3 separate regions of the Homo sapiens genome follow, and regions 2 and 3 are each reported to be linked to region 1. The links are microRNA targets in miRTarBase. Many come from high-throughput screens and were not tested one by one. Region 1 holds a microRNA gene; each other region holds the end of a gene's coding sequence.
The links. The annotated mature microRNA hsa-miR-660-3p reads ACCUCCUGUGUGCAUGGAUUA and lies in region 1 at 2,092-2,112, shown strand. An mRNA with a match to its seed (bases 2 to 7 or 8) in the 3' UTR can be bound and repressed. Matches are read on the target gene's strand: a 7mer-m8 pairs with bases 2 to 8, a 7mer-A1 pairs with bases 2 to 7 and ends in A, and an 8mer does both.

Region 1 (3,268 bases):
AGCCTTGTCTACACTTAAAAGGACAGAGCTTTTGCACATCAACTCTCCCTCCTCTTCCTTCCACAGATACTCAAGTGTCTATTAGACAGCAGGTATTATGTTCATCACCAAGGATATAGCAGGGATCAAAATGGACAGGTTGCTACCCTACATTCTGGTAGGGACTCATAAACACACTATACATAAATGTTGTGGATGAATAGGCCACTGTTCAAAAGAATGAAGTAGATCTATATGTTCCTTGTTACCCAGTCTGCATGCACAAGCATGTGCAGGTTCTGCTCAAGTGAAATTCTCAAATGTCCCCAATCCTTGTACACCAGACACACTCAGAGACATGGCCCTGCATGCAGAGAACCCCACCTACTGAAAGGGTAGGAGATGGAGCCTGTTGTGCTCTCCTCTCTCCCATTCTCAGCGTGCAAGCCAGTGAGCTTCCTTAACTCCCTTATAGATGGGGATTAAATGAGGGAAGTCTTCTTACTGCTACTTTCCTTCTTGCTGCTCTGTATAGGAGAGATCCTTTCATTACTTTTCTGTACAGTCACAGATGAACACACTATATGCGGTGAGCCTTCCCTGTAAACCCATGTGAGCACATGTGCACACACGCACACGTGCACACACACATACTCTGTATGGCTGCTTGGGCCTTCAGTCCTGTTCCCCCTCTTGAATCCTGGTACCTGGATGCAAGTGCTGTGTCAATGCGGTGCACCCAGGCAAGCATTCCACGGCTGAGCCTTTTCTGCATAGAGCGAAGAACACCTGTTTATAATCCCCATCCTTCATTCATTCCCACCTTTAACAAGCAGGGGTGGCGCTCCTGTCATGCACCAGACATGGAGAGACAGGGTGGTCAAGAAAGACACAGAACTCATACTCACATGCCTAGTGAGCATGTTTAAGAGAAGGAACTTCCGTTGCCCACATTGTTCATGCATACGTATGTAGCAGAGAGTGAGTCTTCCCATCATCCCCTCTCCAACCCCCCAACAGTGCTCAGCTAGAGAACTACAAAAGGTGTGTCTCCCCTTACACAGAGCTGCAGCCACAGTGTGCATAGGATAATGAGTGTCATTAGCAGCATCTTCTCACTCATGTCTGGTGTGCAAGGCAATAGGCTTTCTACTTGCTGCTTATGCCACCAGAGCTTGAAGGAAAGTGGCCCTACTTGTCAGTCATCTCACACATGCATATGAAGAAAAGACACTTCACCTTTGTATGGTCATAGGAAAATCACCTGTGAGCCAGAGAGTGCTGTTTCTTTTGTACATACACACAAACACAATGGATTTGAAGATGCTCGAGCCTTCTATTCAGGTTGTCCCTCTCTTTCATTCTTCGTAGTTGGGTACAAATGCTATTCCAGTCCATTGCCTTGTACAAAAATTCAGAGAGGGAATCTCATCCATGTTTAAAAGTGTAGAGTCTTTGCATCACCCCTCTATGTCCCATTATTTCATTTCTTTAAGTTATGTATAGAGCAGTGGTTCTCAGTGTGGTCCCTGGGCCAGCAGCATCTGTATCACCTAGGAGCTTGTTCAAAATGCCAATTCTTGGGCTCATCCCTGACCTACTACACCATAAACCATGGAAATCTGTACTTTACCAAGGCTCTCAACTGATTCTGATGCTCACTTAAGTTTGAGAATCACTGATTTAGTATAAGTGCTAGCTAGGGGCAGTGATAAGCTAGTCAGGTGAAGGGTGGAAGAGAATGAGCTCCTGCATTGCTCATGTACGTTCCCAATGCCGAGTCCATGCAGACTGTGGCAGGGAAGCCATCATTTCATTACTGTCTCCACCTCCTCCATAACCACACATTCAGTGAGCACATGAGGCTAAGTGAACACACAACAAGTACTTTATTAGGGAATAGACTTGGCACTGCTTCTCCAGGCGTGCACCTGACACTTTAATCTCAATCTGTCTCTCTCTCAATCAATCAATCAATCTCTCTCCTCTCTCTCTCTTTCTCTCTTTCTGTCTTTCTTTCTCTCTCCTCCCCCACCCCCCTCCCATGTGCAGAAGAATGAACTGCTCCTTCTCCCATACCCATTGCATATCGGAGTTGTGAATTCTCAAAACACCTCCTGTGTGCATGGATTACAGGAGGGTGAGCCTTGTCATCGTGAATCTTCTGCTGAACAATCCAAGTAGCCCGTGTTTATTGCGCACTTTTGATGTGCCATGAGCTGTGCTGGGAGTACCCTGCTAAATAATGGACAGTGTCTCTCTCCGGGACTTCCTATCTAGTGGAGGTATTAGGTGCCTAGACTTCCCCAGGCCTAGGCAACAGACACAGGTGTGTCAGGAATTGAGCCTTCTCATTCTCTTATGAATACACATGCTCACATTGTGCATGCATGTGCACACACACATGTGTAAGTGTAGAAACATTTCTGTACAAAGCTGAAAGGAAGGAGCCTTATTATCTAAACTTGCCTGCAAGTTTCCTTGCCACACACACTCAGATGCATGCCTGGTGTGCAGGTGCCTGGACTTTGATTTTTGCTTGCCCTCTCCTAGCCTTGCAGCCTAGGCACAAGTGCTGTCTTAGCAGTGCAATGGGCTTGTGCAAGGATACCAGCTTGTGAGCCTTGCCTATGTGTAGGACAGAGCCTGTCCATCCCTTCTCTTTCCTTTGTTCATTCTTTCAGTCAGTCATTTGTGTGTGCATGTTTTTGGTCCATTCATTTATTCATCCCTTTAACAAATTTACTGAATTCCTGCTGTTTGGGAATGCCACAGTAAACTAACCTGTCAGAGATGCCGACCTTACTGTCTAGCAGGCTCATGGAGAATAAGCATCCTCATGTCATCCAACTTCCTGTGAATACATGGGCTCAGGGTGCCAGAAATCAGGCTTTTCTTTATTCCCTCCCACAGACATGGGTACCTGTGCAAATATATGTGGTGTGCACATCCTGAGCCTGCTGCTCTGCTTCCCCTTGTATCCTTGCCACCTAAATGTGCATGCTGTCTCAGTGCAGCACCTATTCCAGGACTCTCAGAGGGGCCTTTTTCTGCCCATAGACAGACAAAGTGCCTGTGAGTCACACTTCCTCCTCCCTCTCCTTCCCCTCTACCTCCCTTTCACAAGTATTGAGCACTTAGTACATGCTAACGCTGTGCTGCCAGGGCAGTGGGCATATGGTATCACACAAGATGGACTTGGTTCTTGCCTCAAAGAATATGTGTAGGAGACTTGACTTTTTGTCACCTAATATTCCTGCACGTGCTGAGTTAGTGTGGGCCACAACAT
Region 2 (3,134 bases), not on the chromosome of region 1:
CCTGGGATAAAGCTAAACAACTGAGACATCAATGCAATATCCCTTATGTTAGTATGGGATATTAGTTAGTATCGGACAATAAATTTAGCTTTTGCATTTTTTAAAAGAAAGACATACTATAAACATCATTAGAAATCAGACTTGTTTAAAATTATTTCATTATATAATTGACTATTATTTTTAGCTAAAGAAAAGGACTCAAGAATATACATTTCTCAGTCAATTATTTAACATCCAGTGTAGGTGAGAATGAGAGAATATTCATGTTATTGCTTACCATTTGTGTATCACAATTGGCAATATCTACTAATATTTTAAATGTTATTACAAAATAGAATTTATAGAAATAGTACTATACAAAAGATTCTCAATGGACTAAAGCAGGCTTAAACTCAGTCATAAGAAGAGGAATACAATTAAAACTACACTGAGAGAGTATTTTTCACCTAATGAGTTGGGAAAGTTATAAAGTTTTGTTTTACACGTTGTATGAAAAACTGTGGGACACAGGGACTCCAATTCATTATTGCTGTTGAGATGGTCAATTACTATAACCTCTATGAAAAGTAGTATCTAAATTATGCACAAACCCCTAGCAGGGCCAGTAGTACCACATCTATTAATTTTCCCACATATAAACTTGCAAGTACAAAATGACATATGGATACAATTATGACACTGCTCTGGCAGAAATTGGAAACTGTAATATTCGCCAATGCAGAACTGATTAAATAAATTATGTACATCTATACAATGGGATACTGTATAACCATCAAAATGAGGAAGCTCCTTACAAATATGTGAGACCTTCAAGATAAAATAAATGCAAATATAAGATGTTGAACAGTGTTTATAGTATGCTGCTGCTTCTTTAACAACAAAAAAAGTGTATCTGTGTAGAAAATACACTTGTATTTGTTCATTCAAGCATTAAAAACTTTCTAGAAGAAACTAGTAATAGCATATGTTAATACTATATGGTGAATGCAAGACAGGGTAAATTTTACTGTATAACTTTTTCATACTTTTGACTTTATTTATTTATTTTTTGACAGACATTACCTGTCCAGGCTGGAGTGCAGTCGTGTAATCACAGCTCACTGCAGCCTCAAACTCCCAGACAAAGCGATCTTCCTGCTTCAGCCTCCCAAGTACCTAGGACTATACATGTATACCACCACGCCTAATTGTTTTTTGTCAAGATGGAATCTTGCTATGTTATCCAGGCTAGACTTGAACTCCTGGCCTCAAGCCATTCTCCCACCTCAGTCTCCCAAAAAGTGTTGGGATTACAGGTGTGACCCACTGCACCTGGCCACTTTTGGCTTTTAATCATGTTAACGTATCACTTACTTTAAAAAGTTAAAGATTTTGGGCTGAGTGCAGTGGCTCACGCCTGTAAACCCAGCATTTTGGGAGGCCCAGGAGAGCAGGTCACCTGAGGTAAGGAGTTCGAGACCAGCCTGGCCAACATGGTGAAACCCTGCCTCTACTAAAAATACAAAAATAGGCTGGGCGTGGTGATGGACGCCTGTAATCCCAGCTACTCGGGAGGCTGAGGCAGGAGAATCGCTTGAACCTGGGAGGCAGAGGTTGCAGTGAGCCAAGATTGCACCACTGCACTCCAGCCTGGGCAGCAAGAGAGAAACTTTGTCTCAACAACACCAAAATAAAGTTAAAGATTCTACCTCTTTGCATAAAGGTGTTCAGTGCTGTACTGGTTGACAGTAAAAATATGGAACCAACTCAGACATTAACATGGGACTAGTTAATAAATTCTGCAACATGCATGTAACAGATGTTAAAAGAATGAGATGTTTTACACATCTCATGTCTTATAAAGAAAGATAGTCAAGATACATTGTTAAGTGAAAAAAAGGTTATAAAACAAGAATTTTGTATAATAGTAAGTATAAACATTTTAACATTCAAAAATATGTCAGTACATACACAGAAAAATCTGGAGGAATATACAACAAAAATAACAGTTTCTGGGAAAGGAAAGAATACAGGAAGTTTGCACTTCTACAATTCTACAGTTCTATAATATCAAAATTTCTTTACATAAGCATTAGAAGAAAAAGGAAACAATAAAAGAATTAAGTTTTAAAGGCTATAAACTACAATTTTCAAGGCCAGGCACGGTGGCTCATGTCTGTAATCCCAGCACTTTGGGAGGCTGAGGCAGGAGGATTGTCTGAGGCCAGGAGTTCAAGACCAGCTTGGGTAACATAGCAAGACCCCTATCTCTACAAAAAATAAAAAATTAGCTGAGCATGGTGGCACATGCCTGTGGGGACTCCCAGCTACTGGGAAGGCTGAGATGAGAGGATTGTTTGAGGCCAGAGGTTGAGGTTGCAGTGAGCCGTGATGGTGTCATTGCACTTCAGCTTAGGAAACAGAGCAAGACCCTGTTTAAAACAACAACAACGACAACAACAAAAACCAACGAAACAATACTCTATAGGGGAACATCAAAAAACATAGTAAATACTTTCAACAACTAAATTTTAGTATTGACAGTCATATTAGTCAAATAAAGTTAAAAAAAGATAAAACATATCTTCTAGTACCTGTTAATACTAGAACAAAATAGGCTTTCCTGCAGTTTTTTCTTGGACGTAAGAAGTAAAACGTTTTAGAAATTTAGGATACTCTCGCTTTGCCACTGCCCTTAACACTGAGGCTGGTGCCCATCCTCCAGGGTTCACTGCAAGATAAAGGAAAATTAAAATGTATTAAGATACAATTCTCCAAACATATGTGAAGCACTTAATTTGTTCCCTTGTTTTTAAAATATTCCTCACATTGGACCAATTAGCATCTTTTTTTTTTCTTTTTGAGACGGAGTCTTGCTCTGTTGCCAGGGTGCAGTGCAGTGGCGCGATCTTGGCTCACTGCAACTTCCGCCTCCGGGGTTCAAGTGATTCTCCTGCCTCAGCCTCCGGAGTAGCTGGGATTACAGGTGCACGCCACCATGCCCAGCTAATTTTGTATTTTTAGTAGAGATGGGTTTTCACCATGTTGGCTAGGATGGTCTCGAACTCTTGACCTCATGATCCGCCCGCCTCAGCCTCCCAAGGTGCTGGGATTACAGGCTGAGTCACTGTACCCAGCTGGACCAATTATGATCT
Region 3 (3,134 bases), not on the chromosome of region 1:
CAGTGTCGTACCAAACTGTGACATCAGCAATGGGGGCAGCCAGAAGCTCTTTCCTGCAGACACCAGTCCTTCAACGGCCACTAAAATTCATAGCCCTATACCTGACATGAGCAAATTTGCAACTGGAATCACGCCATTTGAATTTGAGAATATGGCAGAATCTACTGGAATGTACCTCAGGATAAGAAGCTTGTTAAAGAACTCACCCCGAAACCAGCAGAAAAACAAAAAGGCCTCTGAATAATGGCTTGACTTAGCACTGAGAGCTATTTAATAACTTTGTTCCGTTAATTAGTACTAATTAAGTGGATAGATAGAATGGTTTTCCTGTTTGTCCCTCCCATGTTTAAAAATCTATCCAAGGTTCATGTTCCAAAGTCAAGCCTATTTTAAAGAAAGACTGAGCTCACTAGTTCAGTATATTTTATTCTCACTGACAAAACTTGGGGGGAGATGTGAATATGACCTGGTTTAGAGAGGGTTTGTTAAGGTTTATACTATTTTTGGATTGTGACTATCCGTCGAGAGTGATGGTTTTTATCTGTCTTTTGTACATTGTTTTCCCTTTCTACATTTTGCTAATTATCCTGTATATAAGTTTAATATATCACTTTTTAAAAGAAAAAATTCTACCATTTTAAATTCATGTTTCAACTCCTACAACCAAATGAGAAAAATCAGGGATGAGCAGCTTTATCCCATTTGGGGTATTTTTGTAAGTGATTTACATGTGTCAATTTTAGTAATACTTTTACTTTTTTGTAACTTCATCCTTCATATATGCTTGCTATACAGGTATGTTCATCTTTGTGTACAGAGGTTTAATAAATTAGTTTTCATATACATAATCTAAGACTTTGAATACAAAAAAGTGATTCACAGGTAAAATCAGTGTATATAACCTTTTTTTTTTTTGAGACAAGGGTTTCACTCTTGTTGCCCAGGCTGGAGTGCAATGGCACAATCTCGGCTCACCGCAACCTCCGCCTCCCGAGTTTAAGCGATTCTCCTGCCTCAGCCTCCGGAGTAGCTGGGATTACAGGCATGTGCCACCACGCCCAGCTAACTTCGTATTTTTAGTAGAGATGGGGTTTCTCCACGTCGGGTCAGGCTGGTCTTGACCTCCTGACTTCAGGTGATCTGCCCGCCCAGCCTCCCAAAGTGCTGGGATTACAGGCGTAAGCCACCTCACCTGGCCGGTGCATATAACTTTTAAGTTTAAAAGTAAATTGTTGGCCAGGCGTGGTGGCTCATGCTTATAATCCTAGCACTTTGGGAGGCCAAGGAGGAAGGATCACCTGAGGTCAGGAGTTCGAGACCAGCCTGGCCAACATGGCAAAACCCCATCTCTACATAAATACAAAAATTAGCCAGGTGTGGTGGTACATGCCTGTAATCCCAGCTACTCGGGAGGCTGAGGCAGGAGAATCACTTGAACCTGGGAGTGGGAGGTTGCAGTGAGCCGAGGTCGCGCCATTGCACTCCAGCCTGGGCAACAAGAGCAAAACTCCATCTCAAAAAAAAAAAAAAAAAAAGGTAAATTGTAAAAATCAGTGGTAGCAAAACAAAAATAATGATAGGAATTGCAAGTTTGGGTGTTTTCAGTGGATTTCAGCCTTAAATATAGAAACAGCAGAATTTTTGAAAAGTAATTATTTTGAAAAATGAATGGCATGCAGCTAGCCTTTGTATAAAAATAATTTTCTAGATTTGAACCCTAATAGTTAAAAATTAAAAATTAAACATAAACATACTGCTTTTAATTGTCAGGTATATATATAAGATAGAGCTGAAACTGTGGTTTAGGTCTTTCTGTGGAATGCCATTACATCTTTATATTAGTCAAGTCCATGAAAATAAATGTTTAGATCGTCTTGAATTGTTAGTCTCAGGCAGTGTTATCCTGCTCTCAGGCCAACAGGGGGAGCAAAATAGAAACATTCCAGATATAGCTTTCATTTTTGAGAACTTGAGTAATCAGAATTTACTGTTCTGTAAAGAATAAAGGAAAGGAAAATTATAAAGAGAGAAATTTCTTTTTAAAGCCCTCACAGAATGTGCTAGAAATAGAATAAAATTTAAAATACTTTTGGCTTCTTTTCCTCAGCTTAAGTTCAAAATAAAAGCAATCCTTTACAGTTGTTTACATAGTGTTTTTAACCTGATCTCGCTCAGCATTTCTGTCAGGCAAATTATTATCACCACTTGGAAGTAAGGAAAGGGAGGCAGAGAGAGGTTAAAGGAACTTGTCGACATTCCAGAAGTGGTTCTTAAGGTGAGTGTTCAACTAAAGACTTGACTATTCCCTAAATCAGAGCAGTAGTTGTTTAAATGTCCCTTTAAGAAGTACTGCATTAGTAGAGTCACCTGTGAATACCAGAGGTCTCTTAATAGTTATCTCTTTGCCATTTACCAGACATCGTGTTAAGGTATTTTTGTGCATTACCCCATTTTCACCGTCACCACATTGGGTAGGCATTGTTAACCTCATTGTTGAGAGGAAATACACACAGCTAAATACACACATACTAAAACACACAGCTGATACACAACCTAGTAAATCTAAATCTAGATCTCTCTGACCCCCGTATCTGTGCTCTTAACTGCTGTACTGCCTCCTTGTCAAAAGCTCTACAAAAGCACTGATTCTTTTTTTTTTTTTTTTTTTTTTTTTGATACAGAGTCTTGCTCTGTTGCCGAGGCTGGAGTGCAGTGGCACAATCTTGGCTCACTGCAAGCTCCGCCTCCCGGGTTCAAGTGATTCTCCTGCCTCAGCCTCCCAAATAGCTGGGATTACAGTCATGTGCCACACACCCGGCTAATTTTGTATTTTTAGTAGAGACGGGGTTTCTTCATGTTGGTCAGGCTGGTCTCGAACTCCCGACCTCAGGTGATCTGCCCACCTCTTGCCTCCCACAGTGCTGGGATTATAAGTGTGAGCCACCGGGCGCCCAGCCAAAAGCACTGATTCTCAAAAAATGGGCTATTTCATTTGTTCAATTTTTGGGGGGTGTTGAGTGGGGGACAGGGTCTCGCTCTGTCACCCAGGCTGGAGTACAGTGGCATGATCACAGCTCACTACAGCCTCCACCTCCCAAGTTCAAGTGATTCTCCTGCCTCAGCCTCCAGAGTAG

Region 2: miRTarBase lists CERT1 as a target of hsa-miR-660-3p. The part of its 3' UTR that is shown has no 7-base or 8-base seed match.
Region 3: the mRNA of ZCCHC8 is a reported target of hsa-miR-660-3p. Seed matches in the 3' UTR shown: 7mer-A1 at 1,284-1,290.

The regions. Positions count from the first base shown.
Region 1 is chrX:50,011,201-50,014,468 of GRCh38, forward strand. It overlaps MIR660 (microRNA 660), which reads left to right and starts at 2,041; the gene lies at 2,041-2,137. The region is part of intron 3 of CLCN5 (chloride voltage-gated channel 5); the gene reads left to right.
Region 2 is chr5:75,376,764-75,379,897 of GRCh38, forward strand. It overlaps CERT1 (ceramide transporter 1), which reads right to left. Exons shown (of 17, transcript NM_001379029.1): 17 at 1,012-2,710. The coding sequence ends at 2,583. Among named protein-coding and RNA genes, the nearest start is that of HMGCR, 41 kb to the left of the region's middle. RefSeq lists a silencer at 2,907-3,077.
Region 3 is chr12:122,470,607-122,473,740 of GRCh38, reverse strand. ZCCHC8 (zinc finger CCHC-type containing 8) reads left to right here. Exons shown (of 14, transcript NM_017612.5): 14 at 1-2,141. The coding sequence ends at 244. Among named protein-coding and RNA genes, the nearest start is that of ZCCHC8, 29 kb to the left of the region's middle.